4 linked regions of the Homo sapiens genome follow. The protein of the gene in region 4 interacts with the protein of the main gene of each other region in a pairwise test. Each region holds a gene or a part of one and is shown on either strand. Other genes may lie near its edges.

What was found.
Region 1: the proteins of UBXN1 (region 4) and PLAA interact in binary tests that used the Homo sapiens proteins (3 or more experiments, as listed by UniProt).
Region 2: the proteins of UBXN1 (region 4) and LMNA interact in binary tests that used the Homo sapiens proteins (3 or more experiments, as listed by UniProt).
Region 3: the proteins of UBXN1 (region 4) and ACOT7 interact in binary tests that used the Homo sapiens proteins (3 or more experiments, as listed by UniProt).

The regions. Positions count from the first base shown.
Region 1 is NC_000009.12:26,915,829-26,923,462, forward strand, and holds part of PLAA (phospholipase A-2-activating protein), read right to left. Parts: intron 7,520-7,634; coding exon 7,350-7,519; intron 4,557-7,349; coding exon 4,399-4,556; intron 3,702-4,398; coding exon 3,482-3,701; intron 1,421-3,481; coding exon of another isoform or gene 1,338-1,420; coding exon 1,269-1,337; intron 878-1,268; coding exon of another isoform or gene 789-877; exon of another isoform or gene 1-788. UniProt on the Homo sapiens protein: Plays a role in protein ubiquitination, sorting and degradation through its association with VCP. Involved in ubiquitin-mediated membrane proteins trafficking to late endosomes in an ESCRT-dependent manner, and hence plays a role in synaptic vesicle recycling.
Region 2 is NC_000001.11:156,117,711-156,124,710, reverse strand, and holds part of LMNA (lamin), read right to left. Parts: intron 1-7,000.
Region 3 is NC_000001.11:6,390,552-6,398,327, forward strand, and holds the start of ACOT7 (cytosolic acyl coenzyme A thioester hydrolase), read right to left. Parts: upstream 3,217-7,776; 5' UTR 2,849-3,216; coding exon 2,706-2,848; intron 1-2,705. UniProt on the Homo sapiens protein: Catalyzes the hydrolysis of acyl-CoAs into free fatty acids and coenzyme A (CoASH), regulating their respective intracellular levels.
Region 4 is NC_000011.10:62,675,633-62,683,082, forward strand, and holds UBXN1 (UBX domain-containing protein 1), read right to left. Parts: upstream 3,442-7,450; 5' UTR 3,292-3,441; coding exon 3,233-3,291; intron 3,112-3,232; coding exon 3,058-3,111; intron 2,970-3,057; coding exon 2,863-2,969; intron 2,777-2,862; coding exon 2,707-2,776; intron 2,487-2,706; coding exon 2,295-2,486; intron 2,201-2,294; coding exon 2,149-2,200; intron 2,003-2,148; coding exon 1,886-2,002; intron 1,374-1,885; coding exon 1,181-1,373; coding exon of another isoform or gene 1,086-1,180; exon of another isoform or gene 1,008-1,085; coding exon 958-1,007; 3' UTR 868-957; downstream 1-867.

The sequences.
Region 1 (7,634 bases), on a different chromosome or scaffold from region 4:
GATATGTTCTTTCTGTTCCAGAAAAAAAGCCGCCAAAGTGATTTGGATTCTCACTTGGTATTAAGTTTCAGGGCATCACTGTTTCTGAACTGCTGATAGAGAGAAAGCCATCTTATCTACTCTTCAGATCCTTACTACCATTTGAAATCACATTATGTTATCAAAGACTTCCTTAACAGCCACTGTGCCATAACAGCATTTAGTGTGATAGTTAATTATTTTCATTTACTTGTTATCAATGCACATGGTACAACCATTTCCATCTGGGCCATCAATAAATTCACAGGAAAAAGGAAGCTCACGGACAGCAATCCACAACTTCATGATGCTGACCTAACGTTGTATGTTTGTCCAATCTCTATGACTTAGAGAGGACTGTAGGTTGTCATTTTTATAGCTCACAGTACCAGTCTGCAAGGCCAGTGGATACCTAAACGCTATGATCTCTTCCCAAACTGAGTATACTGTCGAGGAACTCTGTCTGAAGATCCAACAACAGCATTATACAAGATATCAAAAGCCATTCTGAAAATAGAGACTTCTTCAGCTGCCTTAAAGTCCAACTCTGGCACTTTTTCCAGTAGTGTTGATGCTGAGGCATGCATACCTTGGTAAATAAATTCATTTTGAAGAGATACACCAACACTTCAAGGGCTTCAAGAAGGACATTAATAACTTAGATTAGGAAGACTACTCCTGGGTAGTTGGGTGGAATGTCTCCTTCCATGTTAAGTCAAAATATGCCTGGGGAGACTTCTTGATTGTACTGCTCCATCCAATATCAGGGCTCACATGGCTCCTTCTCTGCTCGTGATTGGTAGCATCTCGCCAGTGATAGCACTCATGCTGTGTCTTGGTTGGTGGGTTCCCCTATTATCTAATTTCACAGATAAAAAAAATAGGCTCAGACAGGTTAGGTAACTTGCCAACTTCTCATAGCAAGTAAGTGGTAGAGCCCAATTTTGAACCAAGGTTTGTCTGACTCTAAAACCTATATTCTTAACTATACTGCTCTCCTGGTGGGAAGGACCCCTGGAGAAAACAATGAATTCTAATAATATGCTATTTAAAAGTCACGAGGGAATCTACACAACCACTCCAGGAAAAAGCAAAAATCAGAAGTTAAAGAAAAGGAAATCCATCAAAATTGGAAATGCAGATAAGGGAATTACCAATTACTGGATGACATCTCCAAGATGTAAAGCCATGTGATGCAAGATGCTATACATTTAGTGAAGAAAGATACATGAATCAAAACTACATCCCACCTGTAAAAGGATCTGCTGTGGGTAGTGTGTTAGAAGATCCCGAAGAGCCCGGAACATACCGACCACCACCTGTGCATGCAAAATAAAGAAAAGGCAGAAGTGCACCAAAGTTCTGAATTTTTCAAACAGCACAATGCTTGTTTTAGAAGAACCTACATTTGGAGAAAAACAGAAGAGCAAAACTTTCACATGATAGAATGACAGAAACTATAGTCAGAAGTCTTATAACTGGGAAAAAACTGAAATTTTAATGATTCTCCAAGTTTTGTTTTCTTAACTTTAATGCTTTATTATACCTTAGCCCCAGCACTTAAATATTAAAACTTAATTCAAATATCAAAAGAGAATTGCAGGTAATATCTGACCTAAATATATAAACATACAATCAATTCCTGTCCCTGTTCCTATACAAATTCACAAGAGTTCCTGCTGTTGTTATTGTTATCAAAACCACAGGCACTAAATGTTAATCATTTAGAGCTCTAGGTTCATTAATTCATGTGTCAAACAATGGACTCAGGGCTGGGGATCCAGAAGGGAACAAAATTGCTTATATCCACTGAAGCTTACAACCTACTGGAGAAGAGAATTAGAAAAGGGATGAAAACTACAAAGGAAAGAGACTTCCATTTATACATTTACGAATGTGTGGCGTATGTGCCTATGTTTTGTTAGTACCTCTAGGGAAATAATCAGGTTGTCCACAAAAAAAACAAAAAACAAAAAACAAAAAACAGTAAGGATGCTGAAAAAGTTAAGAGTCTCAGAAGGGCAAAACAAGCCAAGTGCTTCCTAGATTTCCAGACAAAGTCAGCTGCTTTAATTCCTTTCCTGTATCCCACATGCAAAATAGCTTACACAGTACTACAATCTGTGTTCACTCTTGAACTACAGTCTGAAATTCCAACAACAAAAATATCCACATACTAAACAATTATTTTCTTTTTAAGTGCAAGTATTTGGAGGATCAGATCATCTGTAATTCAGTAGTAAGTTACTTTGATAATTTTTTTTAAAATTTTTTGATTTTTTTCAGACGGAATCTTGCACTATCGCCCAGGTTGGAGTGCAATGGTGCGATCTTGGCTCGCTGCCACCTCTGCCTCCCAGGTTCACGTGATTCTCCTGCCTCAGTTTTCCAAGGAGCTGGGATTACAGGCGCACATCCATCACACCTGGCTAATTTTTTGTATTTTTTTTTTTTTTTTTTTTTAGTAGAGACAGGGTTTCGCTATGTTGGCCAGACTGGTCTTGAACTCCTGACCTTGTGATCTGCCTGCCTTGGCCTCCCAAAGTGCTGGGATTACAGGCGTCAGCCACCACACCTGGCCTGATAATTCTATTTAAATCAACATGCAGGTAACATTAGTTTTATTTTATGAATGGGCAATGAAATTTTGAAGTAGAATGAGGAGATAATTTGGGAATGTGGAGTAGCTGTCAGGGAAGAAAAGGTGGATCTACATAAGGATTTGAGACAGGAATATAATACAAAGTCCTCGTAAAACAAGGAAGAGCACTAGCACCTGAAAAATGTTGAGTCAGAAATGATGAGAGGAAAACATTAACAGTAAAGTGCCTATCTCAAAATGTTATTTAGAGGAGGCATTTTATTTCCTCCTACACCAGTCTCCAGAACTCACGTTAATATTACTAGGATTAGATTCCACTTCCTAGGGGCCAGAATTTGGACTAGTACCATTAGGATTACAATTTACAGACTGGTATGAGCACCTAACTGCATTTATAACATGAGATACGATGTATACGATGTTACAAACAATTAACTTAAAATGAACGTGTAGAATACACATCACATATAAACTAAAACTACCCATAGGGTTCACTTTTAGATTTGATGCATGACTGACCAATTTAGCCTCATGTGAAAAAAAGATTTACTAAATTTTGCCAAAATATAATTTTTTAAAAGAAACACTATATAAAAGAACTTACAAGTTTATTTTTGTTTCAAATAACTGAAATTCCATTATAGTATGATTGTATTTTTGAAAGACAACAATTTACTATTATTTCTGTAAAATACAGAATTACTTCATCATTTGAGGCTTAAACATATGAATGTGAAGTAAAACCCTGCTGTAGATATTGGTATTTATTGAAAAAGCTAATCACATGACTATTTGAAAACATCAAAAAAATCAATCAACACTAATGGAACTACATAAGACTCAATATAAACACTAACTTACCTGTAAATGGATCTGAAAAGCTGGGATTCCCAAGTCCCAACATTTGACCTTTTGTGTTATCAATAATAAATTTAGCTACTTGATCCAGAAACATAGGATTCAAATCATTCTTCTGTAAGAAGTTGTATGCAGTTAACCAAGGGTCATCACTGGTATTATATGGCAATTTATATGATGGTCCACCTTCATTGACATCAATTGAGAAAACATAATCAAATTCCTAAAGTAGGAATATAAAAAGGAGATACATGCTTATTATCTGTTCACATATATTAATGACATATACAACATAACACAGATGTGTTCTTTAATAATTACAGTACTTAAACTTTCTCCAAAGTGCAGTGCTAAAATCTTCGTTTTTGGCAGATAAAGATTAACAGCCCCCATCTGCATGTGATGCAAAATTAGTATTTCATTAGGGGATGGGGGTGAGGATGAAGGATGGATTACAACTACATATTAACTCTAGAGCCAAAGCAGAGTTTCCAACTGGTTTGATATCAAGATCAAAATTATCAGCTGTTACTGTGCCCTACTCACCAAAACGTGCTGGCATTTTAAGCACTGCCCTGCAGGGTCTCTCATGTCTTGTCAAGTTAAATATAGCCAGGCATGAGGCATTTGATGAAAGGTGGCACAGAAGCTCCCAATCCAAAATGGCTGGGAACAGCTTTTGTATAGAAACTACTACATGACAGACAATTGCTAATTTGTCTCTCAAATGCAGCTCTCACTACATGGAAAGATACTTTTAAAATATCTATTTCAAGACAGGGAAAAAAAAGATTAGTTTCCCACAGTAATGGATTTTTAAATGTCAAAACAAAGGAAATTTTATCACTATGGGGCAAAGGAAACCTTTAATTTGCCTAATATTTAAGACAATAGTAATTAGAAAGTAGAAGTCGACATACTTTCCCTTCATATAAAACTTTTCCAGATGTTTGCTGATTAGCACCAGATGAGCCAACAACATCACCAATTTTTATCCACCTCCCTTCACTAACACTCCACTGATAGGCTTCGACTTTCTCCCCATCTCTGATTAGACGAGTCTGTCCTTCTCTAGTACCTTAAAATAAAAATTTTAAGAATCAAAGGTAGAATGGCAATGTAAAATTGAAAAACATTTAAATAGAAAATTCTTAACATTAAAATTTACACATAAGAGAATATGGATTTTGTTTCAAAATAAAATTGTATCAAATAAAAGATTTAAAAATGTGGCCAAAAGAAAATAACAGTTAAAAGGAAATATTATTAATCAAAGGAAGGTTAACAAAACGTGATTCTACTAGGAAGCAACTGGCCCATCAAAAATAAAACAAGTTTTATTAGTGAATATATCTTCCTAACACATTTCATTCCGTAAATGGCTCTCCATTAATCCAGTGGCTCAAACTGAAAAGTAGAAAAGCCTGATACCTTTCTCTCAACCCCATCGCTCCTTCGGCTACTTCTCAGCACCCCCTTCAGCTACTGCTATCAGCTCATTCTTTAAAATATATCTAGAAAACTGTCTCCTTAATATCTCCATCATCATCCCTTGGTCCAAGCCACCATCATTTCTCAGTTGGGTTGATTCAACGGCCTCTTTCCTGTACTCTTGGCCCCCGACAGTGTATATTCCACCCAGCAACTTCAGGAATTTTTTCAAAAGTTTAAGTAGGTCCTGACACTCTTCTGCTTGAAACCCATCAATGCTTTTCATCTCACTTGGTAAAAGCCTAAACTCTTGAGTAGTGTACAAGACCAAATATAAATTGTCCACACTATCCTACATGACCTTACTTTCTACTATTCCCCCTGTCCCCTCATCTCCCAACTTCAGCCACAGAGCCTTTGTATTAGCTGTTTATTCTGCCTATGATGCTCTTCACACAGATATTGGCAGTATTTGCTCCTTTCCCTCTTTAACAACTTTACACAAATGTCATGTTCTCAACAAGGCCTTCAGTGGCGGAGACAGCTATCCATCCTCCGAAGAATCATGCTCTTCTTCCATTAGATACAGCTGTAGTTGTCTAGCCAGAGACTACATTATCTAGTCCCCTTGCATTGGGCAGTCACATGATGTCACATTACTGAGTAATGGTCAGTGGAATCTGGGTGGATGTGATATATGCCAGTTCTGGCCTAGTCCATCATACTTTAATCTCCCCTCTTACCCCATCTTAATCTGTTTCAATTTGTTATTTTGGTTGACTACAAAAAGAAAATCCAGCCTAACACACGTAGGTAGTTGAAAAAGAGAAGACAAGTCTTTTCAGAAAATGTGGATAGGCCAGAAATACTAGTTTTTTAAACGCTACAGTGTACAATCTGAAACCACATCAATGAATTTTTCATGCTCTATTATACTAAAATCCACTGGTCTATCTTGTACTTTGAATGGATCTTTTACCCATGTCTGAGATGGTATCAGATACTAGTCATATGGAAAATAATGGTTCAATAACTTACGCAGATCTTCTGCATATTCATACAGTTTATTATTCAATATTAAAAAATGGCATTTGTTAATGTTATTACCACTAGTATCAATACAAATGGGAAGCTACTAAGTTCCTGGTGGAGATACATTTTTCCTACATTTCAATTTTCACTCAAACACTTGAATTTTATCTTTGGCAACATATATTATCAGTTATTTTCCTTGACGGAACATGCTCAATTTGTTCATTTTCAAAAAACGTCTGCCAAATACCAAAGCCTGAATAACCGTAGTCATTCTTTCAAATAAAAATAGCACTCCATGAAAAAACTGGTAGTTTAGCCTGCAACTCAAATGACTGCGCATGTTCTTTTCTTTGAGACACCACAGTATTTTGACTTACTTTATGTCTACTTTAGGTTTTCTCACCCGGAATATTTAAAAAGATGTGTCAAAATGTAATAAAACTGATAATTCTTAATATTAATACCTCATCAAGGACATGCTTAATGGCAAACTGTTTTTTTTTGTTTTTATTGTTTTTTTTTTTTAAACTACAACTGCATGCAAGTAGAACATAGTAACTTACCAGAATGGTTTAAAGCCCCTGGCTTGATTTACATACTAGTGAACCAGTGGTTTTACCCACCATTGTTTTTGCACCATAAGTGCAAACATTAATACAATGTACAACATTCAAATAATATCTAGTATTACAAAAATTAGTTTTGACCTCATGGACATCCTGAAAGGATCTCAGAATCCCCAGAGGTCCATGAATCAAGCTTTGAGAAGCACTGGTATAATAATGCAATCAAGAGATACATCCAACCCAAGATTTCATTTGAGATGACTACGGTCTTCTGATTTCAAACTCGAATGATTCCCAACTCATTACACAGACAATGCTTGATTTTAACTCATTTTTTTTTTTTTTTGAGACAGAGTCACACTCTGTCACCCAGGCTGGAATGCAATGGTGTGGTGTCGGCTCACCGCAGCCTCAACCTTCTGGGCTCAAACCATCCTCCCACCTCAGCCTCCTGAGTAGCTGGGACTACAAGCGCATGCCATCACACCTGGCTAATTTCGTATTTAAACTCATTTTAATATTCAGTTTGTAACCCCTCTCAGAGAATCCAATCAACCAAAAAGTATTAAATGAGTGCCTTTTGAGTGTCTACTGTAAATGATCTAAGTGTTGGGAGATTTATTTTTTAATTCCTGTTTATGAGAAGCTTAATTCAAAGTCTTCTGTGAGACAGAGGCAAGAACATGGTTTCTCATAGTGATTATATGTAATAGTAAAAATCCTCAAAAATCAGCATCTAGCAATGAAAAACACAAGCAAAACAACATTTATTTTTCTTCTAATTGTTCCAAAAGCCAAATATGGTGAATTTTTTCTACTAGGTACAATAAAATACTTACCAGGTTCATTAAGATGTTCCCTCCCAGGAAGCTGCTCAGCATTGATGTCCCCTAAATCGCCAGTTTTAGAATCAATGGTTGCGTGAGACAGTTCTTTTTCAAAAGCCTTGATTTCTTCAGCACTTGCTGTTCGATCTTCTGATTCTGTAAACACTCTAATAATGCCATCACTGTAAGGAAAAATAAACTGATTTTAGAAGTCATTGCCATAATACATTAACATTATCACACCTGAATGATCCATAGTAAAAATAATCTGTGTTTGTGAATATGAGAAATATTAGC
Region 2 (7,000 bases), on a different chromosome or scaffold from region 4:
TGGTTTCTTGGCTAGTCTGTGGGTCTGCCACAACTCGGGTAAGGGCAGGATGTGGAGAATTCCCCTCCCTGGCATTTGAGGTGCTATCCCTCTCTGGAAAGGAGACCTTAAAGAGAGGAACTGAGGCTGGGCGCAGTGGCTCACGCCTGTAATCCCAGCACTTTGGGAGGCCAAGGTGGGTGGATCACGAGGTCAGGAGTTTGAGACCATCCTGGCCAGCATGGTGAAACCCCATTTCTACTAAAAATACAAAAATTAGCCAGGCATGGTGGCGGGCACCTATAGTCCCAGCTACTTGGGAGGCTGAGGCAGGAGAATCACTTGAACCCAGGAGGCGGAGTTTGCAGTGAGCCAAGATCGCGCCACTGCATTCTAGCCTGGGCAACAGAGCGAGACTCCATCTCAAAAAAAAAGAGAGAGAGAGAGAGGAACTGAGGGGGGCAGCTGTTCCAGGGACTTAGAAGCCCCTTGAGCCTTCCCCAAACCCCAACCTGTGAAGTTCTGAATATCATACACCTCAAAAGCCCACAGGTGCCCCAGGATGAAACACCCCGACTCCCTCACGCGGGCATGTGCACCCACAGCAGGCATGGCTCTGCTTCCACACGCTTCCCTTGGGCGTGACACCTGCCAAACAGCCAAATATGCCTAGGGTCTGAGGCCTCTCAGATCCCCTACCAGAGCCACTAGGCTCCCAGCTGTCCTTCCCTAAGACAAAGCCAGGTTTTAATTCCAGGCAGAGGGAGGGGCTGAAGTGGGGAGAACTGGTGCTGAGAGAGGGATAGGAAGCCTGTTGACATGTTCAGACGCAACTCCAGTAGAAGTGCTGGGCCTGGCAGGGGGCCAGGCCTGAGTCACAGCTGCTGGGCGTATCAACGTGGCATTGTACAGAGGCAGGAGAAGCCTGAGGCCGGAGGCCAGGGCACTGGGGTCCTGGACAATGGGCGGCTGGCTTCCTCACCAGCCGCCCCCTGCAAGGTCTCCTGCCAAGTGCCACTTTCCTTCTTCCTGGCCTCTCTCTCTAGAAATCATTCCGGTGTTGTCACAAAAATGCAGGGGTGGGGCTTGGGGATAGAGCAAAAGAAGTAGTGCCTGGAGGAGGGAGGGATGGCCTAAGAAGATAGTAGAATGTCCTGAAGGGGGCGGGAGGGAGGCCAGTGACCAAAACGAGGGACATTTAGGGGATTCCCTTCACAAGAAGCCAATTCAGCAGCCCCTTAACTCTCTATCTGGTGGCACATAGTTATTAACCCTGAGGACACTGGGAGAGAGTGGGAGCCACACCCCAAGGTCAGGAGAAGAAGTGAGGGAGGACCTAGGCAGTCTGGTCTCACTGCATTCCAGCTCTAGCCTCAGAAGACACAGCTCTCTCCTAGCCAGCAGAAGGTGGCAGTGTTAGAGCTTTGGGAAGAAAGGGGAGCCTTGGTGACCCCAAATAGCCTCCTTCTCAACTGCCCAGAACCTAGACCCCTTGAAATGAAGTCTAGCTCCCCTGAGCCAGACCTAAAGGAACTCATGTGTCCTATCTCCCTTCCATTTGTCCCCGTCAAATTCAGACCACTGTCCTTCTTGCTGCAACTTGAATGTAGTTCTCAAGAAAAGGCCACCCCTCAGCCTCTGCTTTTCTGACTGGACAAGCTTAGGGTCTCCTGTCCACTCTCCACTCTGCCCTCTACCATGACTCAGCGCCCCTGCCGGGCCTGGGATCTCAGCCAGAATTATTCCTGGCTTCAGCAGGCAGGATTCCGGCTTCCTCTCTCACAACTTGGGGGAGGCAGGGGTGAAGGGAGGACTCCCCTTCCCAAACTCTTTCCCCTTCCTTAAGGGATTGGTAGGGGCCAAGACCTCCTCCCAGCCCAGCCGCAGGTTGGGGGAGCCAGTATGGGTGCTGGAAGGGTAGAAGGTGGGCAGCCCAAGGTCACCGTGCCCCTCCCCCCGGTTCCAGGCACTGTTCTCTAATCCTGGCCAGCTCTAAGGTAACAGTTCTGCCTCTCCTAGGCCTTCGCCCTAGCCCCCAACCCGGGTCAATGGGAGCCATTCCTGTGCCGCATCTCCCGTTCCTACTCTATGACACAGCCCTTTCCACCGTCCAGAAGGGAGAGGCATCGAAAACGAGTTGCCCTTTCCTAGTAGCAATGAAAACAAAACATTTGCCAAGAGGGTAATGTCACAATTTAACCATTTCTAACAAACTTTCACGGGGAAATAGAGAAATGTGGTAGTATGTTTAATTCCACAGCTTGTGGGAAACATTTCTATTGAGAACAACATTAGCTATTAACTATATTCACATTATTTATATTTGATTTTACTATTAATAACTTGGTATTTTAGAAGACTGTTTTCTCACTTTGTGGGTCACTGTACTACTTTGGAACCTAAAAGGTCTCTGGAGACTTTCCGCTCCAATCCCTTTCTTTTACAGCTAAGGAAAGCCAGAAAGGGGAGGCGATTTGCTCAAGGTCACACAGCAATTTAGTGAAAGGGCCACACACAGAACTAAGGGCACCGAGGGCTAGGGTGTCCACTATATCACACTGCCTGTCATTTTGTTGGTGGACTACCTTGCCCCTTATTTATTTATTTATTATTAGTATTATTTTTTTGAGACGGAATCTTGCTCTGTCGCCCTGGCTGGAGTGCAGTGGCGTGATCTCGGCTCACTGCAACATCTGCCTCCTGGGTTCAAGCGATTTCTGGTTAATTTTTGTATTTTTAGTAGAGACAGGGTTTCACCATGTTGGCCAGGCTGGTCTCTTAACTCCTGACCTGAAGTGATCTGTTCCCCTCGGCTTCTCAAAGTGCTGGGATTACAGGCGTGAGCCACTGCGCCCGGCTTGCCTTGCCCCTTATTGAGGGATAAGAGACCCTGCAATCTTCCAGAGATCTCCTATAATATTAGAGTTCGGCCTATCAGTACACTGGGACCCCAAGGAGGTGAGAATGGAATGAACCCTGCCCTTGTGTCTGGGTCTCTGAAGACTTGGTCTTGGCTGCTGCAGCTGCTAGGGGTGGCGAGGGGCTGGGGAGGAGGGAAGCAAGGGGGAGGGGAGCAGAAAGCACAGTTGGTAGGTGAAGGGATCTACCAGTTGTCCATCCAGCTGTCCTGGGCTTCAGCGCAGACACTAAGCTACCGAATCACTGGGGGGTGGACCTGGAAGTGGGGGCAATGGGCACATCCATGGAAGAGTAAGTCTCAGACTCCTGGAGGCCAGGGGAAGTGCCAAGCAAGGGCACCAATAGTGGGAAGGCAATAGGGGGTCCTAGTGAGGAATTATTCTCTCTTTTGTTTCTCTTGGGCTTTTTAAGTACTTCTCACCCCCCAGGTTTAGCTGCACCCTTCTTCTTTCCCTTTGAATCAGAACGTGGATTTGGGCTAGGCTCAGTGGCTCTCAGCACTTTGGGAGGTCAAGGTGGGTGGACTGCTTAAGCCCCAGAGTTCAAGACCAGCCTGAGTAACATGGTGAAACCTGGTCTCTACTAAAAATAGAAAAATTAGCCGAGCATGTGGCACGTGCCTATAGTCCCAGCTTCTTGGGAGGCTGAGGTGGGAGGATCACTTGAGCCTGGGAGGTGGAGATTGCAGTAAGCCAAGATCATGCCACTGCACTCCAGCCTGGGCCAGGGAGCGAGACTGTCAAAAAAAAAAAAAAAAAAAAAAAAAGAATGGATTTGGTGGTGGAGGGTTGGAGAGGTAACACCAGGAGATACCCTCAGATAAAGCCCAGGGCCCATGCATCCTCAAAGGTCTCCAACCCCATTAACCTAATGGGTCTGCCAAAAGGCACAGCTTCCTTTCAATCCGGGTGGACAATTCCCATGACAAGTCTCAAGATAGTCTCAAGACAAGAATCACCAGCCTCCCAGAGCTCTGACCGTCTCACGATTGAGGGGCTGGCAGGGGTCCTGGGTCCAGGTATAGGCTGGAGCAAAGGCTATCGATCATATGCTAACAGGCCCTGCAGGACAGCAGAGTTTTGTTTTGTTTTTTTCTTTTTCAGAGACAGGGTCTTTCTCTCTCCCAGGCTAGAGTGCAGTAGTGCAGTCATAGCTCACAATAGCCTCAAACTCCTGGCTTCAGGTGATCCTCCCGCCTCAGCTTCCCAAGCAGCTGGACTACAGGTGTTGACCGGCTAATTTTTTTGTACAGAAGGGGGTCTTGCTATGTTGCCCAGACTGGTCTCAAACTCCTGGCCTCAAGTGATCCTCCTGCCTTAGCCTCCCAAAGCACTGGGATTACAGGCATGAGCCACGAAGTATGGCCATAGAGCACTAAGGTGTCACTGGCCCCAGAGCAGAGTTTCCAGGCTGCAGAAGTGAGCCTCAGCTACCTGACTTCACCTTACCTCACCCTCTAGATCCTCCCTCCAACCTGTCCCCCAAGCTAGAGAAGTGAGGCTTAATGGTAAGAGCACACCCAGCTGGAAGTCATAAGGCCTGTGATCAAGTGCTGACCCCTTTATTGTGTGACATGGGACAAGCATCTGTGCCTCTGTGGCCTTTGCTGTTCTTGTCTTGATCAGAGCCTACATGAACTGGAGCCTGCATCTCCCTGCCTGTCCACACTGGGGCTGCAACAGTGGGCAATCCAGGAAGTTGTCAAGCACCAGGGCCTTTTTGGAGTGGAAGTAGCGCTTCTGCTTTGTGGGCCTCGGATCTCCCCACTTCTGACTCAGCCTTCCTCCATCAGTTTCACATGGGAAGGCACAGACCCTGGCACTATCCTGCAGCCCAATCCATAACTCTGAACTCAACTCTGGATTCTAATTACTTGTGCATGTTACCTGTCCAGAGAGAGCTATGTGTCCAGACACCACCAGAGGGTCTCAGGAAGGAGCCAGGCAAGGGACTCCAGGATGCAATGGGGAGGGGGGCAGAAGAGGTAGACATTCAGACCACCACTCCTCCCTTTAAGACAACTGCTGTCTCCACCCTGTCTCCTGCTGTCTTCTGTAAAGCCACCAGGGTGGGAGGGAGGGGGGCAGCATCTGAGTCATCCACCCAGCTGCCTTGCCTGGGGTGGGGCCCAGCTGCAAGCCTGGACTCCAGACAGGCTTCCCTGGTGCTTACAACCTTCCCATTCTGCCTGCACTTGGGTATCCAAATCCCTTGGGCTACAGACTAGAAAGAGACAGAGAAGGGGCAGGGGGTACCAGGTGCGGTAGCTCATGCCTATACATCCCAGCACTTTGGGAGGCCAAGGCCAAGGCAGGTGGATTACTTGAGCCTAGGAGTTCGAGACCAGCTTGGGCAACACGGTGAAACCCCATCTCTACAAAATATATAAAAATTAGTGGCCGGGTACGGTGGCTCACACCTGTAATCCCAGCACTTTGGGAGGCCAAGGTGGACGGATCACGAGGTCAAGAGATCAAGACCATCCTGGCCAACATGGTGAAACCCCAACTCTACTAAAAATACAAAAATTAACTGGGCGTGATGGCATGTGCCTGTAGTCCCAGCTACTCGGGAGGCTGAGGCAGGAGAATCGCTTGAACCTGGGAGGTGGAGGTTGCAATGAGCCGAGATCGCACCACTGCACTCCAGCCTGGCAACAGAACAAGACTCCGTCTCAAAAAAAAAAAAAGAAAAAAAAAATTAGCTGGGCATGGTGGCACACACTTGTAATCCCAGCTACTCAGGAGGCTGAGGTGGGAGAATCACCAGAGCCTGTGAGGCTGACGTTGCAGTGAGCTGTGATCATGCCACTGCACCCCAGCCTGGGCAACAGAACAAGACCCTGTCTCAAAAAAAGAAGAGAGAGAGAGTATTGGCGAAAGGGGTTTCTTCTTGGAGCCTATAATCCAGCCCAACAGAAGGTCCCCCAAACTCCTGAGTGTGGTTGAGGTACCCAGGCTGGGTCAAAAATTGCTACAGGGTCTTAAAAACAACTTTCCATCCCAACTCCAAATCTGGCCCTGAACTCTGAGCTCTAATTAAACATTAAACCAGACAACACCTTCTCTCTAGGCTTTGGTGGGAGGGGTTGGGAAAATGCCTTTTTTCCTCTCCCAAATTCTTTACTCTACCCACTTCTCTACCTCACTCTGAGCACAGCAGACCCAGCAGGGAGTAACCAATCCTGGCTCCTCCTACTGTGGGCATAGAAGAGGACAGACACCCCAGTCTGAGTCCCCTTTGTCTTCACCCCACTTTCTATCAGCTTGGGATCCAGGTGTGCAAATCCACCTCTCTTTTCCGGAAGCCCAGCCTTTCCAGCCAGGATCAGTGGGGGAGAACAGAGGGAGGTGGCTAAATATAACAAGTACACACACCACCTCCGCCCTGCCCCACATGCGCACATACCCGCCTGGTGTCCCAGGCCTGGACAGCTGCACTAGGAGGCAGAGGAGACAAACTGGCGTGGCTGGGTGAGCAAGAGAATATCGAATCCACTCAATCTGTTTCTCGATCAAAGTTTTGACCAGAAAACTGCTAAAACTGCTAAAAATGTCCTTCACAGGGCTTTGGTAGATGAGTGGACTAGTTTAGAATGCAACGAATTCTCTGGGTCTCCCCTTCCTTGCTTCCTATCTGTCTTGCTAACTAAATTGTTCATATCACTAGTAGAAAAAAGACAGGCCTGGCGTCAGGCCTGGTGGCTTATGCCTGTAATCCCAGTGCTTCCGGAGGCCGAGGCAGGAGGATTGCTTGAGGCCAAAACTTCGGAACCAGCTGAGCAACATAGCAAGTTTCCATCTTTACAAACAAAAAGCAAAAAAAAAAAAAAAAAAAAAAAAATTAGCCAAGCGTGGTGGTGCCTGCCCTTAGTCTCAGCTATTCCGGAAGGTGAGACGGTAGGATCGCTTGAGCCCAGGAGGAGTTCCAGGCTGCAGCAAGTTATGATTGTACCATTGCACTCTAGCCTGAGCAACAGGGCAAGGCCCTGTCTCTGAAAAATATAATAAAAATAAAGAAAAGGACAGGTGTGGTCTCTTTCAGCAGAATGAACCCAGGAGTTCAAGACTGTGGGCAACATGGCAAAACCCCATCTCTACAA
Region 3 (7,776 bases), on a different chromosome or scaffold from region 4:
ACAGAGTGAGACTCCATCTCCAAAAAATAAAGAAACAATATGCAATTGTGAACCTGAGATAGCAGACTTGGTTTACAGTGGGTAAGAAAAAGCACACACACGGGCCAGGCGCAGTGGCTCACGCCTGTAATCCCAGCACTTTGGGAGGCCGAGGCGGGCAGATCACCTGAGGTCAGGAGTTCAAGACCAGCCTGGCCAACATGGTGAAACCCCGTCTCTACTAAAAATACAAAAATTAGCCAGACATGATGGCGGGTACCTATAATCCCAGCAACTCAGGAGGCTGAGGTGGAAGAATCGCTTGAACCCAGGAGGCAGAGGTTGCAGTGAGCTGAGATCGTGCCATTGCATTCCAGTCTGGGTGACAGAGCGAGACTGTCTCAAAAACAAACAAACAAACAAACAAAAAGCACACACTTACTGTATGGAAGTGTCTAAAGCTATACAAAAATCTAGTAACTAGGCTAGGAGCAGTGGCTCACGCCTGTAATCCCAGCACTTTGAGAGGCTGAGGCGGGAGGATCACCTGAGGTCAGGAGTTCAAGACCAGCCTGGCCAACATGATGAAACCCCATCTCTACTAAAAATACAAAAATTAGCTGGGCGTGGTGGCGCACGCCTGTAGTCCCAGCTACTCAGGAGGCTGAGGCACAAGAACTTTTTCCAGCTGGGTGCGGTGGTTCACACCTGTAATCCCAGCACTTTGGGAGGCCGAGGAGGGCAGATCACAGATCACCTGAGGTCAGGAGTTCGAGACCAGCCTGGCCAACATGGAGAAACCCCATCTCTACTAAAAACACAAAAATTAGCCAGGCGTGGTGGCGCACTCTTGTAGTCCCAGCTACTCGGGAGGCTGAGGCCCAAGAATCACTTGAGCCCAGGAGGCAGGGGTTGCAGTGAGCTGAGATCGGGCCACTGCACTCCAGCCCGGGTGACAGAGTGAGACTCTGTCTCAAAAAACAAAAAATCTAGTAACTGTTAGAAGCTGGGTGAAAAAAGACAACATGTATAAATTGGCTATTCACCACCCTGAAGAAGTAAATAAAAGGCCAGCCTTCCACGGGAAGATTTAAATCAAGGTTTCCTTTATTCAGGAGAGGGGTGGGAAGAATACTGGATCTGGAGTCAGAAGACTTGGGCAGGGGCTGTCCCTGGATCTCCTGGAGCAGGATGACCTTACACAGTTACTCAACTCCCAAAACTGCCATTTCCTCCTCCACACAGGTAAGGGTGGCACTACCGACCATCAACCTCCCAGGGAATTGGGCAAACCAAGTGGGATGAGACAGGTATAAGCTCTTTGCAAACCATGGAGCCCAAGTTTCCCAGCCAATACTCAGCAGAGCTGATTCAGGAACCTGATGCAGGCTGTCTGTCTCCAGTTATTTCCTTTTTTTTTTTTGCCCCGCTTTCCCCACCTCCAGAGTCGATGGGACCAGAACAGCCACAGAGCCAAAGTCAAAGGGGCAGGGCTCCCCCAAAGACGTTCCCCCTCTGGAAAAGTCAAAACCGACCTTGAGGTAAGGAGAGGCCCTCGACCAGGCCAGAAGATGAGACTGAGAGTCAAGAATCGCCATAGACCCAGGACTTGCTATATGCCCAGCCTTCCTGGAGATGTCAACATCTACAGGAAAGTAACTTGCTTCTATTGGACTTGGCTTGAGCCCAAGGTCAGTCTGTGATGCCCAACCCCCAAATGTGAGGAACCCACTACCAAAACAGAAAGCAGCTCTCACTCCTGGTAGTTCATCAAGCAGGATAGGACCGGTCGCAGGCCACAGAGCCTGTGTGCAGTGGCTGAAAACCTAGACTCCTTGTCCTCACTTAGCTCATGCACAAATGCCAGCCTGCTGCTTCCGATTCTGCCGAAGAGAACTGCAGAGTAACCTTCAGGCTGCCCTCCCCACCTCCTATGGGAAATGAGCTTGTTCATGATCTCCAGCCTCCAGCTTCCTCTGGGGGCCTGCATCTATCTACTCAGTACCTGGTGGAAGAAGAGGGGGTGCTCTAGAAGGACAACCCTTTGCCTCTATTGTGTAAGATGCTTTCAGGCCCAACAGACCACTGATTCCCTTTTCTTCATAGTAAACTGTTAGAGGTAGACAGTATTATCTGTTCTTCCTTTCAACACCTGCCCTCCCCCAAACCGAAGCAGTGCACTGAAGACGGTAGCTCTGCAACCTCCTCCCACAGGGGCACCCACCGAGGGGCTCGCGCGGCTCTGGGCACCTCCCCTCCACCTCTGGGGGCTTTGGTTAGCGCAGCACAACCGCCGAGGTAATGATCCCGAATCCTCGAGGAGGCTAAGCAGGACCACGGGGCTGAGGCTCCGGGATGCTCGGGCGAGGCCCGAGGCGGGGCGGCCCACGGGCGCCGGTCGCCGGGCTCTGGAGCTGTGCATTGACCTCCGCCCGCCCCGTCCCTGCCTGGCTTTCTCGCCCAAACGGCCCGTGGCGCGGCCGCCGCCCTGGAGATGCGGCCAGGAGGAGCCGGCTGGAGGCGGGCGGGGGCCGCCCGGCTTGTGCGGCATCGCGAGTCGCATCCCGGCCGGGCGGGCGTCCGGGGCGGCGGCGCGGAAGGCCGTGCGGGGAATCGGCGGGCGGGGGCGGCCTCGGCGGGTGGGGACCACAGAGCCAAGCGGGGCAGGCCTGGGGCGGTGACCGGCGCGCCTGGCCGCTGCAGGCTGCGCGCGGGCCCTCTCTTACCGGCAGATCTGGATGGCGGACGGCGTCTCGACGTCTGGGCCCGACATGCTGGGGGCTGCGGCGGCGGATGCGGCGGGCGGCTGCAGAAGGGCGCAGGTGTCTGGCAGGCCCGGCGCGGAATGAATGAGCCCGGGCCGCGCCATAAAGGGGGAGGGCAGAGGTGGAGCGATGGGGCTGGTGAGGCGGGGCCTGCGCGCCGGGGGCAATCGAACGCGGCCTCCCCGCGCCGACCCCGCCCCCGCGCCGGCCCCACCCCGAGCCCCGCCTCCCAGGCCGCCAAGGCTGCAGAGAGCTCGCGCGGGCGTACGATTCTGGCGGCGTGGGGGCCCAGGCAGCCGCCGCTTCCAGAAGGTTCGGTGGCGGTTGGGCCGCGCCGGTGCGGGGAAGGCCCGCTAGCCGCGGCAGCCGCGCCCGACCCGGTGGCAGCCCCGAGGGAAGCGTCTGGGGCGGCCTAAGTGGCGGAGCAGGGCGGACTTGGGCCCTCACTCTCCGCGCGGCGGTAAATATTTGTGCTGGGCGTTCCCGGCCGCCCGCGCCGCCGATTCGCTGCCGCGCCCAGTGCCTGGGCGGCCGGATGAGGTCAGAGCGGAAGGCGCGGCCCGGGCTCCTGGCAGTGGGGCCTGATTCCCACCCCCGCCCCCAACCCACCCCGGCACCAGTCGCCCGCATCGCGGCTCTCGCTAAGATCGGCCCTAAGAGAGAATGGAAGGCTGTTTCCTAGAAAGGAGCATTGGTGGCGGCTGCTGGGAAGACACGGGGAATGGAACGGGCCTTTGCTTCCGCAGCACAAAGCGTCACGAGGTGGGGAGGAGGAAAGGCCGGCGACTATCTACACCGCCGCCTGCAGCTTTTACTGGGAGCGCTGAGCGCCAGCCTGGAGGTGCACGTGTTGCAGTGAGGAGCCCTGAAACATGCGTGTTTTACTGCACAAGATGTGCCCTTGAATGGAGTCTAGGCCAGTCGGGGTCACCAAAAAAAATCCACCAAAAAACACCCAAGAAGGGAGAAGCGGTCACCCCCCACGTGCTGGAATGACAGCTTTTTACTTGCTAGGCAGTTGGACCTTTTCCGAATTTTCTACAATGCACATAGATTTGTACTTACATCTTTAAATTAAAACCCACGCAACTCCGGCTCCCTAGTGCAATTTGAACAACCCATTTACACTCAGCTAGGTAGCTCTGAAGGAACTGTGCCTCACCCCGGTCACCCTTGAGTTACCAGACCGTGGAGGCAGCCCACAGCATGATCTGTAGCTCCCAGAAGCAGGGGCAGTCAAAGTCAGAACTCTGTGATTTCAAGACTTTTATACTAAGAATTTTGTTTTTCTGTTTTCTTTTTTTTTTTTTTTTTTTGAGACGGAGTCTTGCTCTGTTGCCCAGGCTGGAGTGCAGTGGTGCAATCTCAGCTCACTGCAAGCTCCGCCTCCCAGGTTCACGCCATTCTCCTGCCTCAGCCTCCCAAGTAGCTGGGACTACAGGCGCCTGCCACCACGCCCGGCTAATTTTTTGTATTTTTAGTAGAGACGGGGTTTCACTGTGTTAGCCAGGATGGTCTTGATCTCCTGACCTTGTGATCTGCCCGCCTCTGCCTCCCAAAGTGGTGGGATTACAGGCGTGAGCCACCACGCCTGGCCTGTTTTCTTTTTTTGATATAGAGTCTCGTTCTGTCGCCCAGGCTGGAATGCAGTGGTGTGATAGCTCACTGTAACCTCTGCCATCCAGTTTCAAGCAATTCTCCTGCCTCAACCACACTGAGTAGCTGGGACCATAGGCATGCACCACCACGTTTGGCTTATTTTTGTATTTTTAGTACAGATGTGTCCAGAATTGGTGGGTTCTTGGTCTCACCGACTTCAAGAATGAAGCCGCGGACCCTCGTGGTGAGTGTTACAGCTCTTAAGGTGGCGCATCTGGAGTTTCTTCCTTCTGGTGGGTTCGTGGTCTCCCTGGCTCAGGAGTGAAGCTGCAGACCTTCACAGTGAATGTTAACGGCTCATAAAGGCAGTGTGGACCCAAAGAGCGAAAGAACAACACTCCTACAGCGTGGAAGGGGACCAGAGTGGGTTGCCACTGCTGGCTCGGGCAGCCTGCTTTTATTCTCTCATCTAGCCCTACCCACATCCTGCTGATTGGTAGAGCAGAGTGGTCTGTTTTGACAGGGTGCTGATTGGTGTGTTTACAATCCCTGAGCTAGACACAAAGGTTCTCCATGTCCCCACCAGATTAGCTAGATAGAGTGTCGACACAAAGGTTCTCCAAGTCCCCACCAGCGTAGTTAGATACAGAGTGTTGATTGGTGCATTCACAAACCCTGAGCTAGACACAGGGTGCTGATTGGTGTGTTTACAAACCTTGAGCTAGATACAGAGTGCCGATTGGTGTATTTACAATCCCTTAGCTAGACATAAAGGTTCTCCATGTCCCCACCAGACTCAGGAGCCCAGCTGGCTTCACCCAGTGGGTCCCGCACTGGGGCTGCAGGTGGAGCTGCCTGCTAGTCCCGCACTGTGTGCCCACACTCCTCAGCCCTTGGGTGGTCGATGGCACTGGGTGCCGTGGAGCAGGGGGCGGTGCTCATTGGGGAGGCTCGGGCCGCACAGGAGCCCATGGAGTGGGGGGAGGCTCAGGCATGGCGGGCTGCGGGTCCCGAGCCCTGCCCCGGGGGAAGGCAGCTAAGGCCCTGCGAGAAATTGAGCACAGCAGCTGCTGACCCAGGTGCTAAGCCCCTCACTGCCCGGGGCCGGCGGGGACGGCCGCGGCTCCGAGTGCGAGGCCCGCCGAGCCCACGCCCACCTGGAACTCGCCCTGGCCCGCAAGCACCGCTCGCAGCTCCGGTTCCGCCCACGACTCTCCCTCCACACCACACCGCAAGCTGAGGGAGCCGGGTCCGGCCTTGGCCAGCCCAGAAAGGGGCTCCCACAGTGCAGCGGCAGGCTGAAGGGCTCCTCAAGTGCCGCCAAAGTGGGAGCCCAGGCAGAGGAGGCGCTGAGAGCGAGCGAGAGCTGTGAGGACTGCCAGCATGCTGTCACCTCTCACAGATAGGGTTTCACCATGTTGGCCAAGCTGGTCTTGAACTCCTGACCTCAGGTGATCCACCCACCCCAGCCTCCCAAAGTGCTGGGATTACAGGCCTGAGCCACCTCGTCCGGACGCAGACTTTTGTTTTTTAGTGAGAATTAAGTTGATGCAAGCATCAAGGGCCCCCAAGCCTGTTCAAACACCACCTCTTCCCAATTGAATCCTGAAATGGTTGGAAGCAGTAACTAGATTTAGAGCCTCAGGCAAGGTAGTTTCCTTTTTTTTTTTTTTTTTTTTTTTAAATCTTTTGAGACAGAGTCTTGGCTCTGTCACCCAGGCTGGAGTACAGTGGCACAATCCCTGCTCACTGCAGCTTCTGCCTCCAGAGCTCAAGCAGCCCTCCCACCTCAGCCTCCTGAGTAGCTGGAGCCACAGGCATGTGCCACCATGCTCAGCTAATTTTTGTACTTTTCTGTATAGAAGGAGCCTCACCACATTGCCCAAGCTGGTCTTGAACTCCTGGGCTCAAGTGATCCACCTGCCTTAGCCTCTCAAAGTGCTATGATTACAGGTGTGCATCACTGTTCCCAGCCTGGCAGTTTCTTTACCTATGATATGGGGGTGATAAATACTTTCCTGACCGTTGTGAGGACTACTTGGCAGGCTGAGGTAGGGCCTTTCTTCCTCTTCCCTCCTCAAACCTTCTGTTTCTCTATACTGCTCTTCCCCCAGCTATGAGTGCAGCAAGAATTTACTAAGACCCCATGCTCCCTGTATAGGTGTGCTTGCTCCTCTGAGCATTACAGACACTTCATTGTTCAAAATCTTCTAAATCTGCCTGGCATGGGGGCTTGCACCCATAATCCCAGGAGGCTGAGGCAAGAGGATCCCCTGAACCTAGGAGTTTGAGGCTGCAGTGCCCTCTGATGGCTCCTGTAAACAGCCACTGCACTCCAGCCTGGGCAACATAGACTCTGTCTCTTAAAAAAAAAAAAAGTTCAAATGCTGCTTGGGACACAAATCAGGGACACAAAAAGCCAGATTCCAGCCACACACTGAACCAGAGGGAATCTTAGACAAGGATGGGCCAAGTGGTTTAGAATGAAATAGCCTGGGCCCTCCAGAGTGAGGCCAAAAAGTGATCTGGAACAGTTCCTATACTTTTGGGAAAGGGTGTGGCTACCCTTCCACCTGAGACAGCATCTGTCCCTCCTGCTCACATCACTACCCCGAAGGTGGTAGAGGGACCCAGAAAAGATAACAGCTCAGCCCAGAGATTATCATGTACCCATTCTGCACTGTAGAAAGAAAATAGTGCTCCAGATTACTACTTATGATGTTGCCCTGTTTTTAAGGATGGCAATGGGGGCGCCCAATTCCTCAGCAAAAACCTTGTGAATGATTTTGGCCATAGTGCTAATGGATTTACACTGATTTTGCACCTTCCACAGTCTCACCTTCTCGTGTTAGGCTATTTTCTACTTGCTCCTCAAGCTATGGGCCATTTCTATCCCTGCTTTCAGCAAAACATCTCAAAAGAGCTGCTTACACACACACCCTCTCCCCTCACCTCCCATCCTCCTTTGAACCTGTTCCAGTTTGGTTTTTGATTCTACCAGTCAATCTATCAAGGTCACTAATTCCTTCCAAGTTGCTAAATCCGATAATCTGTTGTCAGAAGTCATTTTCCTTGACCTCTCAACGGCATTGAGCAGATGTGACCTCCCTATCCTGGAAGCGCTCCTCCCTCACGTCCGTCTTCCTCCCTCGCTGGCCACTGCTCAGCCTGCTCTGCTGGCACTGCCTCCCTGCCTCCTGTCAGAACTTTAGACAAGCCCCAAGCAGTGCTTGAACTCTTGAGGTCTCATTCTGTCTCATCACTTTTTTTTTTTTTTCCTTCAGACAGGGTTTCATTCTGTCACCCAGGCTGGAGCACAGTGGTGCAATCACAACTCACTGCAGCCTCGACCTCCTGGGCTCACATGATCCTCCCACATCAGCCTCCTGAGTAGCTGAGACCACAGGCACACACCACCATGCCCGGCTATTTT
Region 4 (7,450 bases):
CAAAAAATTAGCTGGGCATGGTGGTGCGCGCCTGTAATCCCAGATACTTGGGAGGCTGAGGCAGAAGAATCCCGTGAACTCAGGAGGCGGAGGTTGCAGTGAGCCAATACTGTGCCACTGCACTCCAGCTTGGGTGACAGAGCAAGACTCCATTTCAAAAAAAAAAAAAAAAAAGAAATTCTCAGTGGTTTACATGAAGTGGCCATGGGTGTCTGGAGCACCCCAAAGCTGTATCAAAGTTGTGCATATTTCCAAACATTTTTAAAATGAAAAGGCACTCTCATGTTCTCAATAAATAAATAAATAAATAAATAAATAAAGCAGCAGGCCGGGCGTGGTGGCTCATGCCTGTAATCCCAGCACTTTGGGAGGCCAAGGCAGGCGAATCACAAGGTCAGGAGTTTGAGACCAGCCTAGCCAACATGGCAAAACCCCGTCTCTACTAAAAATGGAAAAAATTAGCTGGGCGTGGTGGTGGGTGCCTGTAATCCCAGCTACTAGGGAGGCTGAGGCAGGAGAATCGCTTGAACCTGGGAGGCAGAGGTTGCAGTGAGCTGAGATTGCGCCACTGCACTCTAGCCCAGGCAACAGTGCAAGACTCCGTCTCAAAAATAAAAATAAAAAAGCAGCAGCTGGGCTTTTATTTTCTGTCTTACCATAGGAGTAAAAGGTGCCATCCAATGTACTCTCCACCCCTTTTAGCACCTCTCCTCCGCAACTTCCCCAGCAGTTAATCAGACCCAGAGATTACAAACAAGTGTCTTTGTTGGAAACTAAAGATGAGGAAGAGGGTCTACTGTTCCGTTTTAGCCTCTTCCTCTGCCTTAGTTTTGTCCCTCCCAGCCATTCAGGAAGGAGTCAGGCATGTACAGAACTCAGGGTCTATTTATTAGGAAGGAGATGTCAGTGCTTTATCAAAGATGAAGGGGTCACAGAGGGACAATGGGACAAAGGCCCTCAGCTGGGACATTTCTTGGCCACAATGAGAACAGCAGAAGGCACGAGTCCTGAAGATGGAAGAAAACAGGCTTGAACCACAAGGATACTTGGTTTTTGCTCCCAAAATTCCTGGCCTTGCACCATGTTCACAAAGCCCCTTCTCTTTGCATCCCTCCTTTTCCTAGGCATGCCTCCCTACTCCCCCAGTTTCTAGTCCTGGTTTCTAGTCTTGCAGCCATACCCAGCTCCTGCAGAGGCCGCTCCATGTCAGCTTCTGAGAAGGCCCGTCTGGGGAAGCCACTGAGCAATTGCACAGGGTCCTGGCCCCCACCTAGTTCCTCCCCACGGTGGAGCTCCACATAGAGCCTCACAGCTGCCAGCTGTTCCCGGGCCCGGAACGTCTGGGTCAGTGAGGTCCCATCTGGCAGCCTGACCTAAAGGGCAAGGGAGATACTCAGTATTGTGGGCATCAAAACTGAATGAGGTGCCCAAGTAAGGAAAAGAGCTAAAGCTGGGCCCCCTTCTTCTTAGATTGAACCAGCACAACTACTATTTAAAGCACCAAATGAACAGCCACTTAGGCTCCGCTTTACTAAGTGCGGATGAGAGACTCCCAGCTCCCTCACAACCTAAGAAAGACAAGGATAAGATTATACAAAAGAATCTGGATAAATACCACATCACCAGATAGCTACATAATAAACCAAATAAAAACATGAACAAGTAAAAGGGTAACTGCTGAGTAAGAGAGAGGTATGGGTTTAAATACAACTGGGGCAGGTGAAATTTGATACCTTTCCCAAGAGTAGAGATAGGATTTCAAAAGTCATTTACAAAGAAGGGAGAGATTTGGCAAAGGGCACGTTAACTGAAAAAAGCTCTGAGCTGGGCACCTTAACACGGAACAAAGGGGTCCCAAGAGGAAGATAAGAATTAGAATCAGTACCTGTATGCGACACTGGTCATACTCCCGCTTGGTGGGAGGCTCCTGGCTGGGAGAAGAGGGAACAGGACCTGGCTCTGGTGCCACTGGGGGTGGCTGAGAGCCCACACTGCCACCATACTAAAGGGCAAAGTAAAACAGTCAATCAGGTACTCACCCATCCTCAGGTGAAACAGATCATATAAGCCCATGCTTTCCCTCTGAAGCTGGAAAAGATTTACTAACCTGCCCACTCCATTACCCGTGGCGTCTTCTCAGTCACCTACCTTCTTGGCTCTCTCTGCTTTGTCCCTCTCGATCTTTTCTCTAACTCTTTGTCTGAAATGTAGACAAGAAGAAATTAGGTCAGACATCAACAAAGCAAATCTTGATTTCTTTCTCATCTGCTATCCATCATTTCCCCTGCCCAGACCTGGCTGCTAACTCCTCGGCCTTTTCCCTCCGCCTCTCCTCAGCAGCCCGGCGCATCTCATCTTCCTGTAGCCGCTGTCGTGCTGCTGACAACTCTTGCCCTTGTCTCCTGCGCTGCCGTTCCCGTTCCAATGCCTCCCGTTCCTCTCTTTCTTCACGCTCCCGCTGCTTCTGGGCCACCAGCTCCAACATCCTGTGTTGCCGAGGGAAAACAGTTCAAGAGAAATGGACAGAGTGGGAAGGTGTAAAGTTTACAATAAACAAAATTAGGCGACATATATCCCAAAGTAGATTAAAGGAAAAGAAAATGCCAAGAAAGAGGAAATGTGGAAAGGTCAAGGTTCTTTGACCAGACGTGTACTGGGGAGAGATGGAAGACGACCCTCAGACACGTGAGATTGTTGTTACTGTACCTCTTAGTTTGTTCCTGTCTTTCCTCTTCACTCAAAGCGGGTTTGCCTTCTCCGGCAGCAGAACCAGATCCTACAAACAAACAATCGGTATTATTATCCCTTCAGATTCTCCTCGGACCCTCCTGAATAATCACACCGTGGACCCTCAGTCAGGACCTTCAAGGCCGCCTTGCTCTGAGGAAGTGGGCTCCCGTCCCAGGATATGTCCAAGGGGAGTCTCTAAAGGCTCGTCCACATCGGGGTCGTCTTCGTGCTCCATCAGCCTGGCAGGGAAAGTGGGCGGGGAGGTTAGCTTTGAGGCTGCCCCTCCCGCCAGCCCCCAATTCTCCGCCACCCGGGACGAGCGCTTACCAGTCCATCGCAGCCTCGATGCCCTGGTTCCCTGTGAGGGCCAGAGCCTTCTCCCTGGGGGCAGAAACACCATGAATAGCGCCCACGAGCCATGGTGACGGTCAGGCTGGGGCAAAGGCCGAGACAGGTCCGCGACCCCCCACACCCGCAGGCCGGGGTTGGGGAACTCCCTTACGCGCGTCCCCTGGGGAAGCCCATCTCGATGAGACTCTCAAGAGCCGTCAGCTCCGCCATGGCGCCGACACCGCGGCTTCCGCGGGGACCTGGTGTGTGACGAGAAGGAGGGCGGGAAGGGTCAGCGCGAGGCAACCCGCCCTCGACACCCGCCGACGGGCGCTCGCTCTCTCACCCGGCTCTATAGCAGCCGGGAACACCGACGAGAAGAAAGCCGAGGGGAAGCGGAAGTGCCGGATCTGTTTGGGTCACGTGGGGGCGGATGTCGACGGGTGCCGCTGAGAACCATAAAACTTCTGGCCCTGCTGCCAGGACTTTCCGTGGGTGGGAACAGGGAGGCAACCCACCAAGCCAAGGCGCCAGGCTGCTGTGGGGAAGAAAGCTGGTGCGGCTCTGAAACCCGTGGGCGGAATGAAGCCAGTTCCCGGAACTTCATCCTGCCTCACCCTCCTTAGAAATTAGAAGGAATATGGTCCCTTAGCGCAATGCTTTGGGAAGTTCTTTGGCAATGTTTGCCAGGAGCAGAAGAAATGTCTTGCTCTTTGGCCCACTCATTCTCCTTAGGGAATTGAGCCATCCTCTGCCTGACTGCCAAAGGGATTTTTGCAAAACACAATCATGTAGTCCTGTCTTCACCTCCCTGCTTAAAAATCCGTGACACTTCCACCATCTAGGACAACTTACTTTTTTTTTTATTTTTTATTTTTGAGATGGAGTTTCACTCTTGTTGCCCAGACTGGAGTGCAATAGTGCAGTGGCGCGATCTCTGCTCACTGCAGCCTCCGCTTCCCGGGTCAAGCATTTCTCCTGCCTCAGCCTCCCGGATAGCTGAGATAACAGGCGCCCACCACCATGCCCAGCTTTTTTTTTTTTTTTTTTTTTTTTTAAGAGGGAGTCTCGCTCTGTCGCCCAGGCTGGAGTGCAGTGGCGCGGTCTCGGCTCACTGCAACCTCCGCCTCCTGGGTGCATGCGATTCTCCTGCCACAGCCTCCTGAGTAGCTGGGATTACAGTCCCACGCCACCATGCCCGGCTAATTTTTGTATATTTAGTAGAGACAGGGTTTCATCATGTTGGTCAGGCTGGTCTTGAACTCCTGACCTCATATGATCCACCTGCCTCGGCCTCCCAAAGTGCTGGGATTACAAGCGTGAGCCAACGAGCCTAGCCATTTTTGTATTTTTAGTAGAGATGAGGTTTCTCCATATTGGTCAGGCTGTTCTCGAACTCCTGACCTTAGGTGATTCACCCACCTCGGCCTCCCAAAGTGCTGGGATTACAGGCGTGAGCCACCACACCCAGCTATTTTTGTTTTTGAGACAGGATCTGGCTCTGTCGCCCAGGCTGGAGTGCAGTGGTGCAATCTTGACATACTGCAACCTCAGCCTCCTGGGCTCAAGCGATCCTCCCACTTCAGCCTCCCAAGTAGCTGGGACTACAGGCACATGCCACCACACCCGGCTAATTTTTCTTTTTCTTTTCTCTCTCTCTCTCCTTTTTTTTTTTTTTTTTTTTTTTTTTTTAGACAAAATCTCACTCTGTAACCCAGGCTGGAGTGCAGTGGCACAATCTCAGCTCACTGCAACCTCTGCCTGCCCCGGGTTTAAGCGATTCTCCTGCCCGAGTAGCTGGGATTATAGGTGGCTGCCACCGCGCCTGGCTAATTTTTGTAGTTTTAGTAGTGACGGGGTTTCACCATCTTCACCAGGCTGGTCTTGAACTCCTGACCTCATGATCCACCCACCTTGGCCTCCCAGAGTGCTGGGATTACAGGTGTGAGCCACCGCGCCCGGCCTAATTTTTCTATTTTTTGTAGAGACGGGGTTTCGCCATATTGGCCAGGCTGGTCTCCAACCCCTGAGCTCAAGTGATCCACCTGCCTCGCCCTCCCAAAGTGCTAAGATTAAAGGCGTGAGCTACATACTCGGCCATCTGGGACAACTTAAATGCTAGTGGTCTGACTTCCTTCTGCGCCCACCTTGGCTTTTTTTGCGGGGAGGGGGGTTAGAACCCCCTCTCAAGTGGAGATCACAATAGCACCTACTTTGGTGCCTGGCAAGGCAGAGTATGTAAATGCTGGTAGTTATTGTGCAGTTTCATCACCCACCACTTGAGGGTAAGCTGTGCATATTGCAAACCAGACTTCACCCTCCTCTTGGCCTGTGCACCAACCAGTCTCCGCCTAGGATGTCCTGTCTCTTCACTTAGTAAACTAACTCCCAGGAGTTTTTCAGGATTCAGGATTTGCCTTCTAAGAAAAGCCTGCTTTGACCACTGCTGTCTGCCTTCCAGCTACAGTATTTAACCCATTAAGCATTTATCCCCACTGCTGTGAGTCACTGTTGATTACTTTGTGCTCCACCACTACCCGGGCTGTTAGATTCCTGAAAGTGAAGCTCACTTTAAATGTTTATTAGAAGGTAGAGTAATAATGACAATAACAGTTACTGATATTGATAATATATGCACTAGAGACTTGTGTGTGTGTGTGTGTGTGTGTGTGTGTGTGTGTGTGTGTGTGTGAGAGAGACAGGGTCTCACTTTGTTGCCAGGCTAGAGTGCAGTGGTGGGATCTTGGCTCACTGCAACCTTTGCCTCCCAAGCTCAAGCTGTTCTCATGCCTCAGCCTCCCGAGTAGCTGGGATTACAAGCACCCGCCACCACATCGGGCTAATTTTTGTATTTTTTAGTAGAGAAGGGGTTTCATCATGTTGGCCAAGCTAATCTCGAACTTGTTACCTCAGGTGATCCACCTGCCTCGGCCTCCCAAAGTGCTGGGATTACAGGCGTGAGCCACCGTGCCCGGCCTGCTAGAGAATTTTGTATGATTAATCCATATTTAATCATCACAACAATCCCTATGATGTAGAAGCTATTTTTAGTCACAAAAAAACAGACTCAAGGCCAGGCATGGTGGCTCACACCTATAATCCTAGCACTTTGGGAGGCCAAGGCGGGTGGATTACCTGAGGTCAGGAGTTCGAGTCCAGCCTGGCCAACATGGTGAAACCCTATCTCTGCTTAAAAAAACATAAAAATTAGCCGGGCATAGTTGCAGGCTCCTGTAATCTCAGCTACTCAGGAGGCTGAGGCAGGAGAATTGCTTGAACCGAGGAGGCGGAGATTACAGTGACCCGAGATCGTGCCATTACACTCCAGCCTGGGCAACAAGAGTGAAACTCTGTCTCAAGAAAAAAAAATAAAAAAACAAAAAACAGACTCAGAAAGATGTTTTTTTTTTGGCCAGGCACGGTGGCTCACGCCTGTAATCCTAGCACTTTGGGAGGCTGAGGCGGGCAGATCATGAGGTCAGGAGTTCGAGACCATCCTGGCTAACACGGTGAAACCCCTTCTCTACTAAAAATACAAAAAATTAGCCAGGCGTGGTGGCACACACCTGTAATCCCAGATACTTGAGAGGCTGAGGCAGGAGAATCACTTGAACCTGGGAGGCGGAGGTTGCAGTGAGCCAAGATTGTGCCATTGCACTCCAGCCTGGTGACAGAGTAAGAGGCCGTCTCAAAAAAAAAAAAAAAAAAAAAAAAGGAAAGATGGGTTTTTTTCTGAGACAAGGTCTGGCTTTATTGCCCAGGCTGGAGAGCAGTGGCACAATCTTGGCTCACTGCAACCTCCTTCTCCCAGGCTCAAGCCATCCTTTCACCTCAGCCTCCCAAGTAGCATGTACCACACCTGGCTAACTTTTGTATTTTTATTATAGTAGAGGTAGGTTTCCGCTATGTTGCCCAGGCTGGTCTCGAACTTGTGAGCTCAAGCCATCCCCTGCCTTGTGCTGGAATTACAGGCGTGAGCCACCATGCCCAGTGCTGGAATTACAGGCGTGAGTGCTGTAATTACAGGCGTGAGTGCTGGAATTACAGGCGTGAGTGCTGGAATTACAGGTGTGAGCCACCATGCCCAGCCAAGATGAGATAATTTACCTAAAGTCACAAAGTAAATAACAAAACTAGGATTCAACCCAAGGCAGTGTGTGTTCTCTAAACCACTATGCTATGTTGCCTCTCCACGGTAGAGTGACAAGCATGGGCTTTATTTTTTTATTTTATTTATTTATTTTTTGAGACAGAGTCTCCGTCTCAAAAAATGAAATAAATAAATAGTAATAATAATGAGATAGTATGACCTCTCGTTATTTGTAAATAAATGAATGCTAAGGAAGGCCGGGCACGGTGGCTCATGCCTATAATCCCAGCACTTTGGGAG